Homo sapiens: one gene and its partners. The protein of the gene in region 1 purifies or fractionates together with the protein of each later gene. This does not show direct contact. Each region holds a gene or a part of one and is shown in the gene's direction. Other genes may lie near its edges.

Evidence for each region. The genes of interacting proteins can lie anywhere in the genome.
Region 2: the proteins of NR1D2 (region 1) and ZNF703 purify together in Homo sapiens (affinity purification with mass spectrometry; 2 studies listed by BioGRID and IntAct, with this or other methods). This does not show direct contact.
Region 3: the proteins of NR1D2 (region 1) and USP48 purify together in Homo sapiens (affinity purification with mass spectrometry; 3 studies listed by BioGRID and IntAct, with this or other methods). This does not show direct contact.

Annotation. Positions count from the first base shown.
Region 1 is NC_000003.12:23,976,284-23,981,145, forward strand, and holds the end of NR1D2 (nuclear receptor subfamily 1 group D member 2), read left to right. Parts: intron 1-939; coding exon 940-1,136; 3' UTR 1,137-4,334; downstream 4,335-4,862. UniProt on the Homo sapiens protein: Transcriptional repressor which coordinates circadian rhythm and metabolic pathways in a heme-dependent manner.
Region 2 is NC_000008.11:37,690,976-37,698,803, forward strand, and holds the start of ZNF703 (zinc finger protein 703), read left to right. Parts: upstream 1-4,806; 5' UTR 4,807-5,004; coding exon 5,005-5,247; intron 5,248-6,169; coding exon 6,170-7,699; 3' UTR 7,700-7,828. UniProt on the Homo sapiens protein: Transcriptional corepressor which does not bind directly to DNA and may regulate transcription through recruitment of histone deacetylases to gene promoters. Regulates cell adhesion, migration and proliferation.
Region 3 is NC_000001.11:21,752,128-21,759,157, reverse strand, and holds part of USP48 (ubiquitin carboxyl-terminal hydrolase 48), read left to right. Parts: intron 1-1,374; coding exon 1,375-1,495; intron 1,496-2,453; coding exon of another isoform or gene 2,454-2,455; coding exon 2,456-2,612; intron 2,613-6,038; coding exon 6,039-6,166; intron 6,167-6,506; coding exon 6,507-6,631; intron 6,632-7,030.

The DNA of each region.
Region 1 (4,862 bases):
CCAAAATTCAGGGGCTTACAAATGCAAACATTTATTTAATCTCACAGTTTTTGAGGGTTAAGATATGATATGAGAGATAGGATATGATATGTGCCTCTGACTCAGGGTTTCTTAGGAGGTTATAGTTAAGCTGTGGACAGGGCTGTGGTCTCATATGAAGGCTTGAGTAGGGAAGGATCTGCTTTCAGTTGTATGTAGTTATCGGCAAGATTGAGTTCCTTGCAAGCTGTTGGACTGAGCACCTCAGTTGCTTGCTGACTGTTGGCTAGAGCCCACTCTTAGTTCCTTGCCATGTGGGCCTCTCCACAGGGTGGCTCACAGCATGGCAGCAGCTTTTCTCAGAGTAAGTGAGCAAGAGCGTACCTAAGATGGAGGCCACAGTTTCTTGTAAGCTAATCTCAGAACGGACATCCTATCAATTCTGCCATATTTTTTTTCATTAGAAGTTAGTAAGTCTAGGTCCACTTAGTAGGAGGAGGTTGCGCAAGGGTGCGAATACCAGGATGAAGGGATCATTGGAGGCCATTTTAGGGGCTGCCTACCACACATGGTGACATACAAATGGGAGTGTATTCCATATGTATTGAAAATATGTTTATATACTACATTATTTTATTTTGCTAATTAGAAGCAGTTGAAATCAGATGACATCTAATTTTAAAAAGTCAGAACCTCTATGTTCTTGTGAATAAAAATTCTTAACAGTAAAGAATTTTGATTGATCAAATGTTTTATGTGATATATATGCTTTATAATATAGTAACTAGCTAACGATTTGTTACTGAGATTTTGAGAAATTTGTCAACTTTTGCCTTTATTCAGATGTATAAAACCTTGCTTTCTATTCGTTAGTGACACTGATAAGCAAGAATTTTATTTATATTTAATGTTAATAATTTATCCTGTTTTTCCTATTTCCCTATTCCTGATCTCTCTTAGATCGATCTGGAATAGAAAACGTCAACTCTGTGGAGGCTTTGCAGGAAACTCTCATTCGTGCACTAAGGACCTTAATAATGAAAAACCATCCAAATGAGGCCTCTATTTTTACAAAACTGCTTCTAAAGTTGCCAGATCTTCGATCTTTAAACAACATGCACTCTGAGGAGCTCTTGGCCTTTAAAGTTCACCCTTAAGGCCTTTGTTTATTTAAACATGAACTGATGGTAACTGTACATTTTGTGCTAAAATGCATATTTATATGTGTATACCATATGTGGAGATAGAAAAGACCTTTAAGACAATAAAAGATTGTAGGCTATCTCTGTAATCATGCAATAGCTGTTCGGATTGAGAACTCTTCAGCCATGATTAGACGTTGACTGCATCTCCCTGATAGACCAATCAGCTGTGTCGCACTTAAACTGGAGAAGTTACACTGAAGTATAATCACACTGAATGTTAGACTTTTTCATCTGCCAAAACCAAAAACCATTTTGATCTCCCTGTGGTTATCAATATAACGCACAATCACAAGTGTATGAGGACTTAGAAATTAATCCTTTGTGGTAGGAGTTCTGTTGAATGATGGAAATCTTATTACTACCACAAGACTATTTGATCTGGTAATTGGAGACTTCGGGATTTAGGAGATCTCCATGTCTGTATTTACTCTACCACTGCTAAAGTGTGTGGTCCTGGGTAGTTTACTTGCTTGCGGAAAATGAGAATTGATGGTGTCCCCAATGCCCCACCTCACAGAGTTACTAAAAAATGTCTGTAAAGCATATTTACCTCTTGGGAGATAGGCACTATGTAAATAAGGTAAAATTTCTGTTATTACAATTATTCATAATAATATTCTTTTCTTATTTCTAAGCCTTTCTGGGAAATCATTTCAGTCCACACCAACCATATTATTCAGGGTTCCTGCCATATGTGTGGGGTATCCTACTGATACACACGTATTCAAAGTTTATGGGTACAACAAAGACATAGTACATGTACATAATATGTATGTGAATATAGTTAAATATATTTCTTCACAATATTTTAAACTGTGAAGAACTTTATCATACAGGAAACTTAAAACAAGAGGTGTCAAAAGACCCAAATTAGGTGCATTTTACTTGTTTATGATGGCATAACCATTGCTTTAAAATGTTTAGACAGTAGAATATTGAATTTATGCTCTATTTTTGTTTATTTAAGCAACACTTAATGTAAAAGTGCAACAGGCAATTGAATCCAAATTTCAACGACAAAAAAAAAAAACATGTATTTTAGAGTTCATCTTTGGCAAAATCTTTGGTTCAGGGTACTAGTTGTTTAAAAGTTGATTCATATTCTTACCTTGTGCTGAGAAAGGTTGCATTGCTGCCCCTTATACACATGCTGCAGCTTGATGTTAAAGAATTTTTATTCTTTCTGAAGAACTAATTAATGTTTAAAGCAACTGTTTAATATGATGGCATGTGTGTGTGTGCGTGCGTGTGTATGTTCTGAGTCCACTTCTTTTTTCCTAAATAACACTACAGGGATTTTGTCATATTAGATTTAATTTATAATTTGAAAAATCATCTAGTGTGTGACCTACAGGCTTAGAAATGGTATAGTCAAAGACATTTTATCCACATTTCTAATAGTGGACTTGATTAAGTAGATAAGATCAGCATCTGTTTATGGTAGTAGGAGAAATAGCCAAAGTTGAGGATTTTATGTATGTTTTCCTGTTTACCTGGAAAATAGCAATTAATTGGATTTTTTGGTAAAGATTGCCTTCTGTATAATGTTTGGATTATATAAAATTGCAAAAATGATAACAGCCCGCTTTACTGTACTAAGCCTGTTACTTTCATGACGTGTGAGCAGAATGCCTTATTTTGTAATCTTGTTTAACTTGTTGCTACTGGGACTTGATTTACTGTGGCACTAGTTAAGTAAGTTAAAAAAAAGTTAAACCCTCTCATTATTAAAGAGGAAAGGCGATGGTGATGTCTGTAGTACAATATAAACCATAATTGTGATTTACCTTAAGTAGGTATAACTCTTATGGGATATACAGTATAGTTTTTGTGAATCTTTACATGATAGCATTATCTTTTTATAATTTTTTTTCCTAAGATAAACAAATGCATAGTTTTCTTCTATGGGTGATAGAAACAGCTTTTTGAAGTAATGAAAACCTCAAAAGATCATGTTGATTCTTAATTTTTGCCTTTTGCATAAGCCTCTTTATAACATGTATCTTTAAAACAATTAAGTCTTTAGGAATGTGTAACCAGAACTATGTTAGTATTGCTTATAAAACTTTAGTTAGGTTCAATATATACATATATACATCTCTATATAGGTATATAGATTTGCATTTTGTCTTGTAAAATTTTATTTGAATAAATTCTTCCTGTAGGTAATGGGAAACAAAATTAATAGTTCATATGTCACTCATAGCATTTCTATATTTGAAAGTAGCCCAATATAAAACTTTTGATTCTAAAATTAAACCAGCAGCCTATTACAAGCACATTCTTTGATTGAGTCATTGGTTATAAACTTACTAAATGCAGAGAAAGCAGCCAATTTAGGAAACTTCTGAGTTGGTGGGACACTGTTGATTAATAATGTACTGTATGAATTAAGTGATGCTTTAACTTTGATTTTACATTTTAAAGTTAAAATGTGGGCATTATGTCAGCAAACTTAAGGGCATTATGTCAGCAAGCTAAAACATTTTTTTTCCTGTGCTTTTAATGTATCTCTTTACATGATCTGAGAGAGGATTCAAGTTGATAGAAATAGCTGAGGGGAAAAGGGGGAACATCTTGGGATGAAGCTTGTCCTTATGGTGATGGTTTAATTACAGATTAAAAAATTAGAAGGAAATTTCAGTGGATTAAGTGTATAGCTTTCATATCTACATTTCAAGAAATTACCATTGTAACTTGATAAGAGATGATTTATTTTATGTAAACATCTTTGCAAAGCAAGGTGTAGCAGCTCAGCTAGATTTATTACTGTGCACGAAAGTAAATACCTATCTCAATTATTCTTTTTCTTTTCCAATATAAAGTTTGCTGAATGTACAAGAAGAGTTTATCACTTAGGATATAGAATTTTTTTAGGGGTTGGGGGAGGGGATCTGTTAGGAAACTGTTACCTATAAACAAAGATTGACTGGATTCGATCCAAAAGATAAAACTTGAAGCTATTCTGGAACTAACATGGAAAAATGAAATGGCTATTGTTTAAAAAAATGATAGAAATACATTGTTGATGGGATATGAGTTAAGTTTATTTTCTACAAACTGTAATTGATGAGGACATGGATAATATCTTCATGTTTCTGAGAAGTAATCTGTATGTGGGGGGAGGGGATAATAAATATTTCTAACCAACTGTGGTGTTTGGTGTCTAATCTACCTTGCCTTTTTTGTAAAACTAATAATTTAACTCACTACAAGTATCTTTCCCCTGAGCATAGCAGGATGTTTTATGTAAATCTCTGATTCAGCATGGGGAAATGTGTGTATATGTATATATGTGTGTGTGTGTATATACACACATATATATGTATATGTGTATATATGTATGTGTATATATATATATGTATATATACATGCACACACACACACAGGGCTTAAAAAAAGATTTTAGAGTTGAGATTCTGGCAAGGACTGTTGCTATTTTCTATAATGCCAACTGAGTAATGGTTCGTTGTGTCTAATAAGGTAGTCTTTCTAGGTAGGAGATGTGAGAGAGGAATGGGGTACTTGATATAACCAGAAATCACCCTTGGCCATGAATGGAGTGCACCTCAGCAAGACCACTAGCTTCTTTTTCTTTTCCTATCAGTTGTTCCCATGTTGGCAAAATTAAGATAGCTACTTAAATCTCCATTGTTTGCAGTAATATTGTTAGGCAAT
Region 2 (7,828 bases), on another chromosome or scaffold:
CAACAGAGCAAGACTCTGTCTCAAAAAAACAATGCATTTGGGAAAAGGTACTTTAACATGTTTATACAATCAACATTTTGAAAAATACAATCATCCGTGTTAAACCTTTTGGGAATACAGTGAGGTGTGATATAAATAAATAGCCCTATTTTTGTAAAATTCTTCGTTCATCAGAAACATTCACTGGGTACTAACTGCACTGAGACTGCCTGGACCTGGATTTGACACTCCAGGCTCACCTCCTACCAGCTTGGGCCTTGGGCAAGTTACTTAACCTTTCTGTGCCTGTGAAATGGAAGTAACCATAGGACCCATCTCCTAAGGTTTCTGCAAGGATTAAATGAGAGAATGCACGCAAAGTGCTTAGAACAGCGTTTGGCACTCAACGTTGGCTACTGTGGTGATGGTGAACCGCTCTGTTAGGCAATAAGTACACAAAGAGGATGAGGAAAACAAGAAGCATTCACAGTCCAGTGGGAGATCAGACAAGGAAGCAAATAGTGGCAGATGCCATGTGATAGGTGTAATAATAGAACATAATACCAACTGTGAGAATGTAGAAGAGGGAGCCTCTTGAGTCATCGGTGGGGCGGGCTTCCTGCAGGGCTGGCTGTCCTGGTCTTAGCCTGCTTGCTCCCACTGTTCCCTGGTGCCCCTCTCGTGCCCCAGGCTGTGTCTGAAGCCGGGGGATGGGGCAGACAGAGGAAGCGCCTTCAAGTGCCCTGAGTGCAGTGTGCTAAATCAGGGCTCCCGGCCAAAGCAGTAATTGCCAGCCGCTGAAAGATATTAAGCGCCAGGGAGGAAAACCAAGTTCTCTATGAGGCAGACTTTTCAGAGTTCTTACAGCTTGTAAAAAAAAAAAAAATGTAAATAGTTACCCAGTGAGATATTATTTCATGTTGTTGCCATTAGGGTTTGAGTGTTATGCAGAGAGAGGAGAGAGAGGCGATCATTCAGGCAATTCTGCCTCGGCAAGGACTGAAAACTACACATTAACCCCACACAACAAATCTACCCCCTCTAGGTCTTAACCTGACTCGAGCATTTTTTCCTGGGTGGTGAATTTTATGTAAATTGAAGTAGTGAAAAAATAATCTATACATATTCACAGTTTCTTAAAGGATTTTCTTGATGGCTTCTAGGGAGGGATGGGCTATTTTTTTTTTTTTTTAAGACACATTGCGGGCTGGGCACGGTGGCTCATGCCTGTAATTCCAGCACTTTCGGAGGCTGAGGCCGGCAGATCACTTGAGGTCAGGAGTTCAAGACCAGCCTGGCCAACATGGAGAAACCCCATCTCTACTAAAAATACAAAAATTAGCTAGGCATCATAGCACACGCCTGTAATCCCAGCTACTCGGGAGGCTGAGGCAGGAGAATCGCTTGAACCCGAGAGGCAGAGGTTGCAGTGAGCCGAGATCATGCCACTGCACTCCAGCCTGGGCAAGACAGCAAGACTCCGTCTCAAAAAAAAAAAAAGACACATTGAACTGGAGGCTGGGGAAGGGTTACTTTCATTTCTGTAGAATTCAGAGACAACCTGGGCTCTTCTGCTTGGGTTCCCAGGGCTAAATCTGGTGCTGATGTGGCTGCTCCCCTGAGCAATTGCTCCTCAGACACAAATGATGCAATCGGTTACAGCCATCATTTACCTTCAACTTTCTTTGTGCCAAGCATGAAACAGGTGACATGCATTGTCTGCTTCTGGTCTCCCAACTCTGAAGTGGCCACGCTTCCATTTTACCCTGGAGGAAACCAAAGCTTAGGGAGGTTCACTTGCCCGGGGTCCCCACAGCAGCCTGGTTCTGGGCCTGACTCTCTTCAGCTTGAACTGAGAATGATAGCAACACCTGATGTTTATTAAGCGCCTGACATACCGAACTGTCATTCTTCACCACAGTGTCATGGGGGCACTCTCAGGCAGCCCTCTCCCCTGTCCCATTTTAATGGTGGCCGCTCATTCCCAGGGCCATCTGAGGAGGACCTGGACAGTGGAAGGCCCCTGAGCCACGCATCTGCCACTTTTTTGCAGAGGGAGAACCTGTGTCATATGTCCTGAACAGGGATGTCTTACTCGGGCCTTCCAACCACATCGCCCTCCATAAACACAGCCCATCTGAATACAGAGCCACATTCCCTCCCAGGTGACAAGCCATTCCTCTGAAAACTACACTTGCCTTCAGGCCCCGAGGGCCCCATTTAGTGCTCTGTATAGGTTAGCATTTTAGCTAAGTGAATGGTGAATCCCAATTGTAATAATCATCTAGCAGTGTTTTAATTAGGCCTCTGGCCTGGCTATGCATGGTTTTTCATTTTCCCTCCTAAGACGTTTGGATGGATCCAGCCAAAGAAACCCTGCTGCCCTGACCAGCAGCTCAAAGTGTGTCCCTCCCGCCTTGCATGCTTTCAGAGGTGTGTCCTACCACTTCCCAGGAGGTGGGAGCAGGCCAATCTGTGTGCCCGTCAGTAATTACCACTGGGAGCTCAGGGAGTGAGGTGTTTTTAACAGGACAGTATAGTATTACCTAGGCAAATCCCCCATCACATCCTGCCAGTCTGTCCTTACCTCCTCTTCTCTCCCTTCCTTTCCTTCATTCACTACCTTTTTCCTTCTCTTTTCCTCTCCAAACAGAGAGTGAATATTCTATTGTCCTCTCTCTTCTCCCCTCTCTCCTTTCAGCTGCCTCCTGCTCTGTTTTCCAAATTCCTAAATACCTCTTCCCTCTCCCCTCCCCTTTTCCTCCTGACTTATTTCCCATTAATCATTTCTAACACACATCTGCTCAGGCCCTAGAAGGATCCCTTGGCTCCCTCTCACAGCTGGGCTGGTTACAATAATCAGGGAGACTTTCATCTTTCATAGCCTCCTAGGTCTCCCCTCTGCCCAGCTCCTCCTCCTCTGCGTTCCTGCAAAGGCCAGCCTCTCTGCACCCTGGCTTCCTTCTGCCCTTCCCGCTCTACACAGCAGTCTCCCGAAGGCAAAATGGCTTGTGGGTGGACACAGCCCTGCAGTGGACTTTTACAGGTGGTGTTTGCAGTGATGGCAATGGCTGCCCGCACAGAAGTCGGCATGAGAAGCCTGCCACGATGAAATAAATGAGATCACTCCCTCCCTTTTCATTCCCGCACCCCTCTTGCTGCAATGTGGGATCCATCTCACAGTCAGGGTACCCCTTTCCATTCGGCGTAACATGATTTTACCAAGATTAAAATTGGGGAACATGTAATTACAGCTTGTGTAATTTCTAAGCATTCTATAAGTGCTGCCCAAAATACAGTATGGATCCAGGGAGTGCACTTAGTTTTGGGTATGACTGATACTGCCTGGAAGTGGGGTCTGCTGTCTTCTACTACTGGGCAAGATACAGATTCGTGATAGCTATTTCTTTCTGTTTGAAGAGCTCCTTTGAAATCACCTCTCCCCATCTTGGGTTCTCAGGTCATCTCAAGGCGTCGGTCAGCGCGGCAGAGTCGGGAACCTGCCATCCTAGAGCAATACGCCCCGAGTGACAGCCCTGACAACCGGAGTGATGGATCGGGACTGGAAAAGTGGTGCTGGGAGCCAGGCAGTGACACCAGCGCGCCTCCACTGGCCGCCGAGCGCACGGAGAAGTGGGCTCCCCAGAGTTCGGCACCCAAAGGACCAACTTCGCCTCCGGAAAAGCGGCGGATCCGGAACTTGGATGTCAGGACTATGACTACGTAAAATCTCTGCCCAGGGCGAAGCTAGCAATGCACACTGTATCAGAAAGGCGCAGGGAGTCGGGAAGGGTATTGTTATTTTTAATTAAAAGTTTTTATCCCGAAATTTGCCTGGGGAAAGCAAGTGCTTTTTCCCCCGGAGTGAGAAGGATGGGGGGGCGGAGGGGTTGTGTTGCCGAGCAGCGCTTAGAGAGAGATCCCCCTCCAGGGACACCCGCCTCGCCCGTGATCTCGGTCTCTCCTCGTAGCAGCTGGGCGCGGTACAGTGAGGAACTTCACGCCCCTCAGCAGGACACGGTAAGAAGCCTGTAACACACCAGACACCGAGCCTCTAACGCAGGGCGCAGGCACAGCGCGCACAGCCTGGGGTCCCGCGCTTGGTCGCCGACCATGTCACTCCAGAAGGGAGACAAACTTGCAGGCTTCAGACAAGACGGGCTCAAAGTAGTTGGAGCTGCCTACGCCGCGTCCCGAGAACAGTGGGTGCCTCCGAGGCTCGGGCGCTTCCAAGTGAACACACCAAGGGGAGGCCAAGTAGGGGAAGGAGAGCGGGGCCGAGGAGAGCCGGAGCAGCTCTGGAGAAGGACCCGGGCTCCCGAGGCGAGGCCTGCCCCCAGGCGGCCTCTGGGAGAGGCTTGAACTCCAGCGTCCCAGAGCCCGCGCCGTGCGATCCCTCCCACCCCACCCCACCCCACCCCACCCCACCTCGGACACACACGGCGGGCGGGGTTACAGCCCCCGCCAGCATCACCCCCCACCCACCCAGTGGTGAGAAGGGAGAGAGGAGAGAGAGCGGCCGGAAAGGAGGACGGGGCGCAGAGCTCAGGGTCCCGGAGAAGTCCCGTCCCAGGCGGGGGACCCCAGGGCGAGGAAGGCCCAGTCGGGGGGAGGGGAGGAATCCCGGGAGCGGCCGAGACCGAGGCAGCGGCGGCGCGCGGCGCGGCCCCTTTAAGGCTCTCCCCGCCCACCGATGGAGCCGGCCTCAGCCCGCCGCTCTCCCCGCCCCGGGGTCCCGGCGAGAGCTGCGATTGGGCGGGCGCGGCGATCCCTTTGAAGTGTGGCTGCCGATCGCGGCTATTTGACGTGCGGCTCGAGGAAGGCGAAGGTTTTTGTGTTGCTAGCCGGGGCCAGCGGCGGTGGCGGCGGCGGCGGAGGCGTCGGTGGAGGAGGGGAGGCGGCGAGGAGGCGCAGCTCCCGCTGCACCGCGATCGACGCTGCGGAGCGAGCCCACCCGCCCCGGGAGCTCGCCTCCCCGGTGCTCCCCCGCCCTCCCCGCCCCCCCAGCGGCGCTGCCTCCTCCAAATGAGCGATTCGCCCGCTGGATCTAACCCAAGGACACCCGAAAGCAGCGGCAGCGGCAGCGGCGGCGGCGGGAAGAGGCCGGCGGTGCCGGCAGCGGTGTCCCTCTTGCCACCGGCGGACCCCCTGCGCCAGGCGAACCGGCTCCCGATCAGGGTCCTGAAGATGCTGAGCGCTCACACCGGTCACCTCCTGCACCCGGAGTACCTGCAGCCGCTGTCCTCCACTCCCGTCAGCCCCATTGAGGTCAGTCCCCGGCCGCTGCCCCCGGGCGCCGGCCCCATTCCTCCCACCGCGACCGGGACCCTGACCCAGCTCCCAGCGCCCCGGGGCTCGGTGCGACACCCAAGTCTGGTCACGCTGGCGGGCTGAGTGAGGAGGGGAAGAAAACCGAGGGATCAGAGCCCACCAGGGCTTCCCCAGGCTTCCCCGTGGAAGGGTCTCCTTCCACGCTCGCCCTTCGGAGCTCCGTGTTTTCTCTCGGATTGGATTTGCTCCTGGAGTCCCCTCTGGGTCCTTTACTTTTCCTCTGATCCCCAGTTTCCAGCCAGGAGTTGGTCTCTGCTGGGTCTTCCCCGCCCCCCACGCCGGGCTGTTTTCTTTGAAGCCCTGGCTGCCCGGGTCCCACTTCGCCTCTGTCCCATCCGGTGAGGGCGCACGGCGCCCTGGCGCTCCCGATCCCGGATCTTTCTTCCTGCCTCTTCCCTGGGTGCCCTCCCCGGGAGGGAGGGGCTACGGAGAGAGCGCCAACTGCAGCCCCTCCTTTAGAATCCGCGCTCCCCTCTCCTACCCCGCGGCGCCATCGCCAGAAACCCGTCCCAAGCGAAGTTCCCCCAAACTAAAGGAATAAGTTTTTTCCTGGGCCTGGAGGAGGGGGACATTAGAGGGAAGTGGCGAGTCACAGCCCCGACTCCAGAGACGTCACCTTCTCCCGCAGGGGTCCTGGGTGAACTCCTTCCGCAGGGCCTGCGGCGCACCCCGGGACCCAGCGGCAGTGTGGGCGCAGTTCCGCCAGCTGCCGCGCCCGGCCCGGCCCTCGCTCGCAGACCCTCTCCCCAGGCCCGCCCCGCCCCGTGGCGCCGCCGCCCAGCTCCCCGGGCGCCCCCGCTCGCCCCGCAGGCCTCTGAGTCTCACTCCTTCTCCCTCCCCCTGCTTCTGTCTCCCACAGCTGGACGCCAAGAAGAGCCCCTTGGCGCTGCTGGCTCAGACCTGCTCGCAGATCGGCAAGCCGGACCCGCCGCCCTCCTCCAAACTCAACTCGGTGGCGGCGGCGGCCAACGGGCTGGGAGCGGAGAAGGACCCCGGCCGCTCAGCCCCGGGCGCCGCCTCCGCAGCCGCGGCCCTGAAGCAGCTGGGGGACTCACCGGCCGAGGACAAGTCCAGCTTCAAGCCCTACTCCAAGGGCTCCGGCGGCGGCGACTCCCGCAAAGACAGCGGCTCCTCCTCGGTGTCTTCCACCTCCTCCTCGTCCTCCTCGTCCCCGGGAGACAAGGCGGGCTTCAGGGTCCCCAGCGCCGCCTGCCCGCCCTTTCCCCCGCATGGAGCGCCGGTCTCCGCATCCTCGTCCTCGTCGTCGCCCGGCGGCTCCCGCGGCGGCTCCCCGCACCACTCTGACTGCAAGAACGGCGGCGGGGTTGGCGGCGGGGAGCTGGACAAGAAAGACCAGGAGCCCAAGCCCAGCCCGGAGCCGGCAGCCGTGAGCCGCGGCGGCGGTGGGGAGCCCGGGGCGCACGGTGGCGCCGAGTCCGGGGCCTCCGGGCGCAAGTCCGAGCCGCCCTCGGCGCTGGTGGGGGCCGGCCACGTGGCGCCGGTGTCTCCCTACAAGCCGGGCCACTCGGTGTTCCCGCTGCCGCCCTCCAGCATTGGCTACCACGGCTCCATCGTGGGCGCCTACGCCGGCTACCCGTCTCAGTTCGTGCCTGGCCTGGATCCTAGCAAGTCCGGCCTCGTGGGAGGCCAGCTGTCTGGGGGCCTGGGCCTGCCGCCGGGCAAGCCCCCCAGCTCCAGCCCGCTCACCGGGGCCTCCCCGCCCTCCTTCCTGCAGGGATTATGCCGCGACCCCTATTGCTTGGGAGGTTACCACGGCGCCTCGCACCTCGGCGGCTCCAGCTGCTCCACCTGCAGCGCGCACGACCCTGCCGGGCCCAGCCTGAAGGCGGGGGGCTACCCGCTGGTGTACCCCGGGCACCCGCTGCAGCCCGCCGCGCTCTCGTCCAGCGCCGCCCAGGCCGCGCTCCCCGGCCACCCGCTCTACACCTACGGCTTCATGCTGCAGAACGAACCGCTGCCGCACAGCTGCAACTGGGTGGCAGCCAGTGGGCCGTGCGACAAGCGCTTCGCCACCTCGGAGGAGCTGCTCAGCCACCTACGGACCCACACGGCCCTGCCGGGAGCCGAGAAACTTCTGGCCGCCTACCCCGGGGCCTCGGGCCTGGGCAGCGCCGCCGCCGCCGCCGCCGCCGCCGCCTCCTGCCATCTGCACCTCCCCCCGCCCGCCGCCCCCGGCAGCCCCGGGTCGCTGTCCTTGCGGAATCCACACACTTTGGGCCTAAGCCGGTACCACCCCTATGGCAAGAGCCACTTATCCACAGCGGGGGGCCTGGCCGTGCCGTCCCTCCCCACAGCCGGACCCTACTATTCGCCATACGCGCTGTATGGACAGAGACTAGCTTCAGCCTCGGCGCTGGGATACCAGTAACTACAGCTCTTCCTCCACCCCAGCCCCCTCACCCTCCTCCCTCTCCCTCCTCCTCCCTCCCCACCTGCCGTCGCCGCTGCAACCTCCACTACTGCTTGACCCTGCCGGGATTCCCCACCCAGCCCTTCC
Region 3 (7,030 bases), on another chromosome or scaffold:
CAGGCTGGAGTGCAGTGGCACGATCTTGGCTCACTGCAACCTCCGCCTCCTGGGTTCAAGCAATTCTCCTGCATCAGCCTCCAGTCTTCAGCCTGTAGCTGGAGTTACAAACGTGTACCACCACACCTGGCTAATTTTTGTATTTCTAGTAGAGACAGGGTTTCACCATGTTGGCCAGGCTGGTCTCAAAACTCCTAACCTCAAGTGATCCTCCTGCCTTGGCCTCCCAAAGGGCTAGGATTACAGGCGTGAACCACCACGCCTAGCCAGTTGATTTATTTTTGTTTGTGTGCATGCGTGAAGTAGTGTGAGAAACAGTCACATGGTCCCAAATTGTTCATTATATGAAAAGGTACATTTCCTTTTCATTCATTCATTCATTCATTCATTCATTCATTCATTTTTTCCAAGACAGAGTCTTGCTCTGTCGCCCAGGCCAGAGTGCAGTGGTGTAATCTCGGCTCCCTGCAACCTCCGTGTCCTGGGTTCAAGGGATTCTTCTGCCACAACCTCCCAAGTAGCTGGGATTACAGGCCCGCACCGCCACGCCCGGCTAATTTTTGTATTTTTAGTAGAGACAGGGTTTCAGGCTGGTCTCGAACTCCTGACCTTGTTATCCGCCTGCCTCAGCCTCCCAAAGTGCTGGGATTGCAGGTGTGAGCCACTGTGTCCGGCCGAAAAGGTGTATTTTCTTTTAACCTTATTCCCACTCATGCTCTGTAGGTAACCAATTTCATTAGTCTCTTGTTTTTCCTTTCTGTATTTCTTTTTGTACAAAATGAGCAGAAATATGTACATGTATATTTTCCTTATATATTTCTTACACATAACAGTATACTAGAGATACTCCTTTGCATTTTGCTTTTTTTACTTAATAATGTGTCCTGGATTTATAAATTACCTTATATCTGTTCATAGATATCTTTTTCATGCTGTGTGTGTGTGTGTGTGTGTGTGTGTGTGTGTGTGTGTTTTACAGTTGCATAGTACTCTGCCATATAGATGTACCATATTGTCTATTTTTGGGCATTTGGGTGGCTTCCAATATTTTGCAATTAACAGACAGTGCTGTAATGAATAACCTTATGAGTGAGATTTTGCATTGTTGGAGGTATAGCCTAAGGAACAGTAAATCCTCAGAAATGAGATTGCTAGGTCTAAAGGTAGTTGTCTATGTAGTTTTGTTAGTGACTGCATTTCTACCAGCAGTATATGCATGCTTTCTTCTCCACACCCTCACAAACTGAGTGTCTTATACTTTCTCAGTTTTGCTAATTTATAGATGAGAAGTGGTATCTCATTTTAGTTTTAATTTGTTTGTCTCTCATGAAACTATGGTCTTTTAAAAATTAAAGGTTTTTTTTTTCCCCTTAGACGAAACTGCAAAGGAAATCCGAATTGCTTGGTTGGTATTGGTGAGCATATTTGGTTAGGAGAAATAGATGAAAATAGTTTTCATAACATCGATGATCCCAACTGTGAGAGGAGAAAAAAGGTAAACCATCATTTTTTAAGCGATTGCTATATGCTGTTTTTTGTTTTTGTTTTTGCTTTTGTTTTGGGCCTGTGATCAGAAAACTCTACTGATTTCAGGTAACCTGTGCAGCTTTAAGATAAGCAGTAGAACTTAAGACTCTAAGCCACTTGAATTGGAACACTTCTTAATGATATGCTTTAAAACAGGCAGCTGCGTAATTCAGTAAGCCTTTAAATAATAGTTTTAGTTTGAATGCTGATTCTATGTTTGCTTTAACATTGCATGTTTTATTTTGAAATCTTAACGCCTCTTTAAAGGAGATGGTAATTCAAGGGAACAAACTCATGATGATAGCACTTTGCTTTCTAGGGCTTGTATTTTATATATAATTTTGCTTTTTAAAAATATACATTAAATTTTCTAGACATAAATCTTAGCATTCACGAAATATCCAAGTTTGTTATATATAGATATTTTAATAAAATAATAATTCTTTGTAAGGTCAGGAATTCCCAACCTTATCTTTGGAAAAAGTTGCAGCCAGTTCCCTCTACCACCGCCAATCTTTAAAATCTCTAGAATATAAAGGAAGTTTTCTGCATAAGTTTTACTTTGTCATTCTGCTGAATGCTGGCAGTTTAGAAATACAGAAAACATAAAACCTATATACGCTTGTTCAAAACCGATCTTTTCTAGAATCCACTGTTCTAATTTTAGATTTAAGTGGCTGGAGAAGACGATATGCTAGAGATGAGCAGTGATGCCGTCCGAAGTCTTTTTCACTCCTGTGGTCAACCCAAAATGGGGCTTTCATGAAAATTATGCCCCACCTCCAGCCAAGAGAAACTTAAGGTGGCTATACCATGTTGGTTGTGACGGTCTTACACATTTTTAATCTGAAAATTTAAGAATAATGCTTAGAAATTGGTTGTTTAAAGGAAAATGGGTTTTATAATTATGAATTTTGTATTTTTGTAGAACTCATTTGTGGGCCTGACTAACCTTGGAGCCACTTGTTATGTCAACACATTTCTTCAAGTGTGGTTTCTCAACTTGGAGCTTCGGCAGGCACTCTACTTATGTCCAAGCACTTGTAGTGACTACATGCTGGGAGACGGCATCCAAGAAGAAAAAGGTGGGTGGAAAGGGGTGGGGGAGAGCTCTCTTCCTGAACATTTTTTTAAACTTTTTTTTTTTTTTTTTTTTGAGTCTTCCTCTGTTTCCCAAGCCAGAGTGAAGTGGCGCCATCTCGGTTCACTGCAACGTCTGCCTCCTGGGCTGAAGCGATTCTCCTGCCTCAGCCTCTTGAGAAGCTGGGATTACAGGCGCCCGCCACCACGCCTGGCTAGTTTTTGTATTTTTAGTAGAGACAGCGTTTCACTATGTTGGCCAGGCTAGTCTCGAACTCCTGACCTCAAGTGATGTGGCTGCCTCGGCCTTCCAAAGTGCTGCGACTACAGGTGTGAGCCACTGTGTCTAGCCTAAACTTATTTTATTATTATTATTATTATTTTTTTAAGACAGTTTCACACTTGTTGCCCACGCTCTAGTGCAATGGCACAATCTCGGTTCACCACAACCTCCGCCTCTCAGGTTCAAGCAATTCTCCTGCCTCAGCCTCCCGAGTAGCTGGGATTACAGGCGTGCACCACCACGCCCGGCTAATTTTGTATTTTTAGTAGAGACGGGGTTTCTCCATGTTGGTCAGGCTGGTCTTGAACTCCCGACCTCAGGTGATCCACCCGCCTCGGCTTCCCAGAGTGCTGGGATTACAGGTGTGAGCCACTGTGCCTGGCCTAAACTTATTTTTTTTATAGAGACAGTGTCTTGCTCTGTTGCCCAGGCTGGTCTTGAACTTCTGGCCTTAAGCAGTCCTCCTGTCTCGGTCTCCAAAAGTGCTGGATTACAGGCATGAACCATGGTGCCAGGCCTTGAATAGCTTTTACCAGCCTGCAAAACCTTTGCACCCCAAGGAGTAATATTTTATCTTTATTTTACAGATGGTATATTGACTTGCTGAAAGCCACAATTGGTAGTAAGGATACAAATATTCAGAGTCTGATTAGAAGACAGAAGCTACACAATAATTTGAACAGAAAAGGTTTTTTTTTATTGTTTGTTTGTTTTTTGAGACAAGATCTCACTTTTTCGCCCAGGCTGGTGCGAGCACAGCTCACTGTAGCCTCAACCTCCCAGGCTCAAGCAATCCTCCTGCCAGAGCCCCCCCGAGTAGTTGGAACTACAGGCATGCACCACCACCTCTTGCTAATTTTTGTGTTTTTTTTGGAGACAGCATTTTACCATGTTGCCCAGGCTGGTCTCAAACTCCTGGGTTCAATCGATCCACCTTCCTTGGTCTCCCAGAGTGCTGGGATTACAGGCATGAGCCACAGCACCTGGCCTTGAATAGCTTTTACTGGCCTGCAATGCTTTTGCAGGCCAAGGAGTAATATTTTATCTTTATTTTGAAGATGATATATTGACTTGCTGAAAGCCACAGTTGGTAGTAAGGAGATAAATATAGTCCAGTTAGAAGACAGAAGCTACAGAATAATTTGAAAAGGGAAAGTTGAGAATTAATAACAGAATTAATTAGAGAAATGAGGAATTGATTAATAAGAGTTAAAGATTAAAGAGGATTTTAAAGAATACAAGGACAGCAGATACAGGGAACAACCTGTATCCCTGGGGCTGAAAGAGAACATCCAACGGATAGTCTGTCACCCCCATGGCCCAGGCTTGAGATCCAGACCTCTTTGGACACTGCTGGGATGCACTGGGTGGCTGAAAAGGTGCTGAGATGCCTCCCTGGGAATCCCTACTAGAAACTGTCCATGAGAAGGTGCTGGGCCCTGGAACCCCCTACAGAGTCACCTGAGAGAGTGTCCGGGAGGCCATTCACAGGGTGGTCATTCGAGAGGAAATGCCTCACTGGAGGCACTGTACTGTGAAGCTATCAGAAGAGGTGCTGGGTAAGCTGCTGACTACTGTTAGGGGCAGGAACCTGGAGCCCTGGAGGAAGCTGATCTGCAGCAGGCTGGTGACAGAGGCACAACCAAACCCTGCAGTGCCCTTCACTGAGAAGCCTTACCTTCTTGATAACTGGCAAAGGAGAAGTATTTGCAGAGCCCATCTCTCATCACTGAGCAGGCAAAGAAGGGTAGATTTGGAGCTGAGAAGCAATAAGTTAATAACTTAAAGAAGATAAGACTTCTGTCTTCTGGGCTCTCAATATCCATGCTTTCTGCTTCCATTCCCTGCACTAGCTCATTAAAACTTTCAACTCTAAAATTCTACGGTTTTGTATTCTTCACTTAAGTGTGAATTGCTGTGCTTGAGATCCCAAGTCCACATTAACTGGACTTTAAAAAATCATGACTAGACACTGTAGTCATGATTGCTGTTGTTGCTTTAATACAGGTAGGCTCTTGCCTTTGGGGAGTGTATATGGACAGTCCTGGCTGCCTCATGACTTCCACAAAACATGGTTGCTAATTCTATTTCTTTTTTTTTTTCCTCCCAGATGGAGTCTCACTCTGTTGCCCAGGCTGGAGTGCAGTGGCACAATCTTGGCTAACTACAACCTCCGCCTGTCGGGTTCAAGTGATTCTCCTGCCTCAGCCTCCCGAGTAGCTGGGATTACAGGCGTGTACTACCATGCCCCACTAATTTTTGTATTTTTAATAGAGACGGGGTTTCGCCATGTTGGCCAGGCTGGTCTGGAACTCCCGACCTTGTGATCCGCCAGCCATGGCCTCCCAAAGTGCTGGGATTACAGGCGTGAACCACTGCTTCCAGCCTTGAGCCACTGCGCCAGCCCTGTCTTTTAAAGTTTTTTTTTTTTTTTTTTTTTTTTTAAAGAGTCTCGCTCTGTCATCCAGGCTGGAGTGCAGTGGCATGATCTCTGCTCACCACAACCTCCACCTCCTGGGTTCAAGCTATCCTTGAACCCCAGCCTCCCAAGTAGCAGGGATTACAGGTGCTCGCCACCACACCCAGCTACTTTTTGTATTTTTAGTAGAGACAGGGTTTTACCATGTTGGCCAGGCTGGTCTTGAACTCCTGACCTCAGATTATTCGCCCGCCTCTGCCTCCCAAAGTGCGGGGATTACGAGTGTGAGCCACCGTGCCCAGCCTTGTTTTTTGTTTTTGAGAGTCTCACTTTGTTGGCGATCTCACCTCACTGCAGCCTCTTCCTCCCGCGCTCAATAGATGCTCGTGTCTCAGCCTCCCAAGTAGCTGGGATTACATGTGTGCACCACCACACCCGGCTAATATTTGTATTTTTTTTAGTGGAGACGGGGTTTCTCCATATTGGCCAGGCTTGTCTCAAGCTTCTGATCTCAAGTGATCTGCCTGCTTTGGCCTCCCAAAGTGCTGGGGTTACAGGCATGAGCCACCGTGCTCAGCCTATTTCTTTTAAAGTTTTAAAATGATAATAAAGTATTAATCTAGTTTGGATGTAGAGATGTTTATGTTCTCATGTGAAGAGGAAGTACCATTTTTTGGAAAGAAAAGTAGCACCTTAAAAAACCCCAAATCTATATTTTTGTTTTAATAGATTATGAGCCTCAAACAATTTGTGAGCATCTCCAGTACTTGTTTGCCTTGTTGCAAAACAGTAATAGGCGATACATTGATCCATCAGGATTTGTTAAAGCCTTGGGCCTGGACACTGGACAACAGCAGGTAAGAACTGAATTTTTTTTTTTTTTTAAATATTCAGAGGTACCCAAACATCCTAAGCATGTTTATAAAGGGAGATGAAGTAGAATGCTTTTTAAAAATTAAATTTTTTCTATTTTGAATGAAAACCTTTATTTACTGTCCAATAGTTTACACATTATACTTGATTCCATTTATGGAAATTCATATGGGGGCACAAACTGATTGAACATAGCTGTAGCCCCTGTTTGAAAATGCTAAGTTGAAAGTATAGGTAGTTTCTGGAATGTTGAATGTATTACTATTTGTAGTAGAAGTTGAAAAGCAAGATATGATTTTTCTTTTCATTAACCTAAACTTGTAGGATGCTCAAGAATTTTCAAAGCTCTTTATGTCTCTATTGGAAGATACTTTGTCTAAACAAAAGAATCCAGATGTGCGCAATATTGTTCAACAGCAGTTCTGTGGAGAATATGCCTATGTAACTGTGTAAGTCTGTTTCAACTTTTTCATGGTACATTTTATTCTAAGACAGTTGCTCATATGTTAACTATTTTTCAGTGCAGTTCCAGGTTGTAGCTTTAGTGGTTTATCATGGGACCTGAAATATTTATAGTAATACATTTCCATGGGAACATATAAACAAGTGAGTTGGTAATTGCAGTTGCACCCATCCAGGTGTTAGGAACGGTGTCTGGGTGAGCTCTTGCAGTCTGCTCTTGCTTTATGGCTGTGTGGTGTGAGCTAAAGAGTAAGATTGGAACTGGCTAGAATACTAAAAGTAAATGTAAAATGCCTGTTAAAAAAATGTGCATGAGTACAATATACAACATTTGGGTGATGGTTACATTAAAACCTAGACTTCACCACAGTGCGATATATTCATGT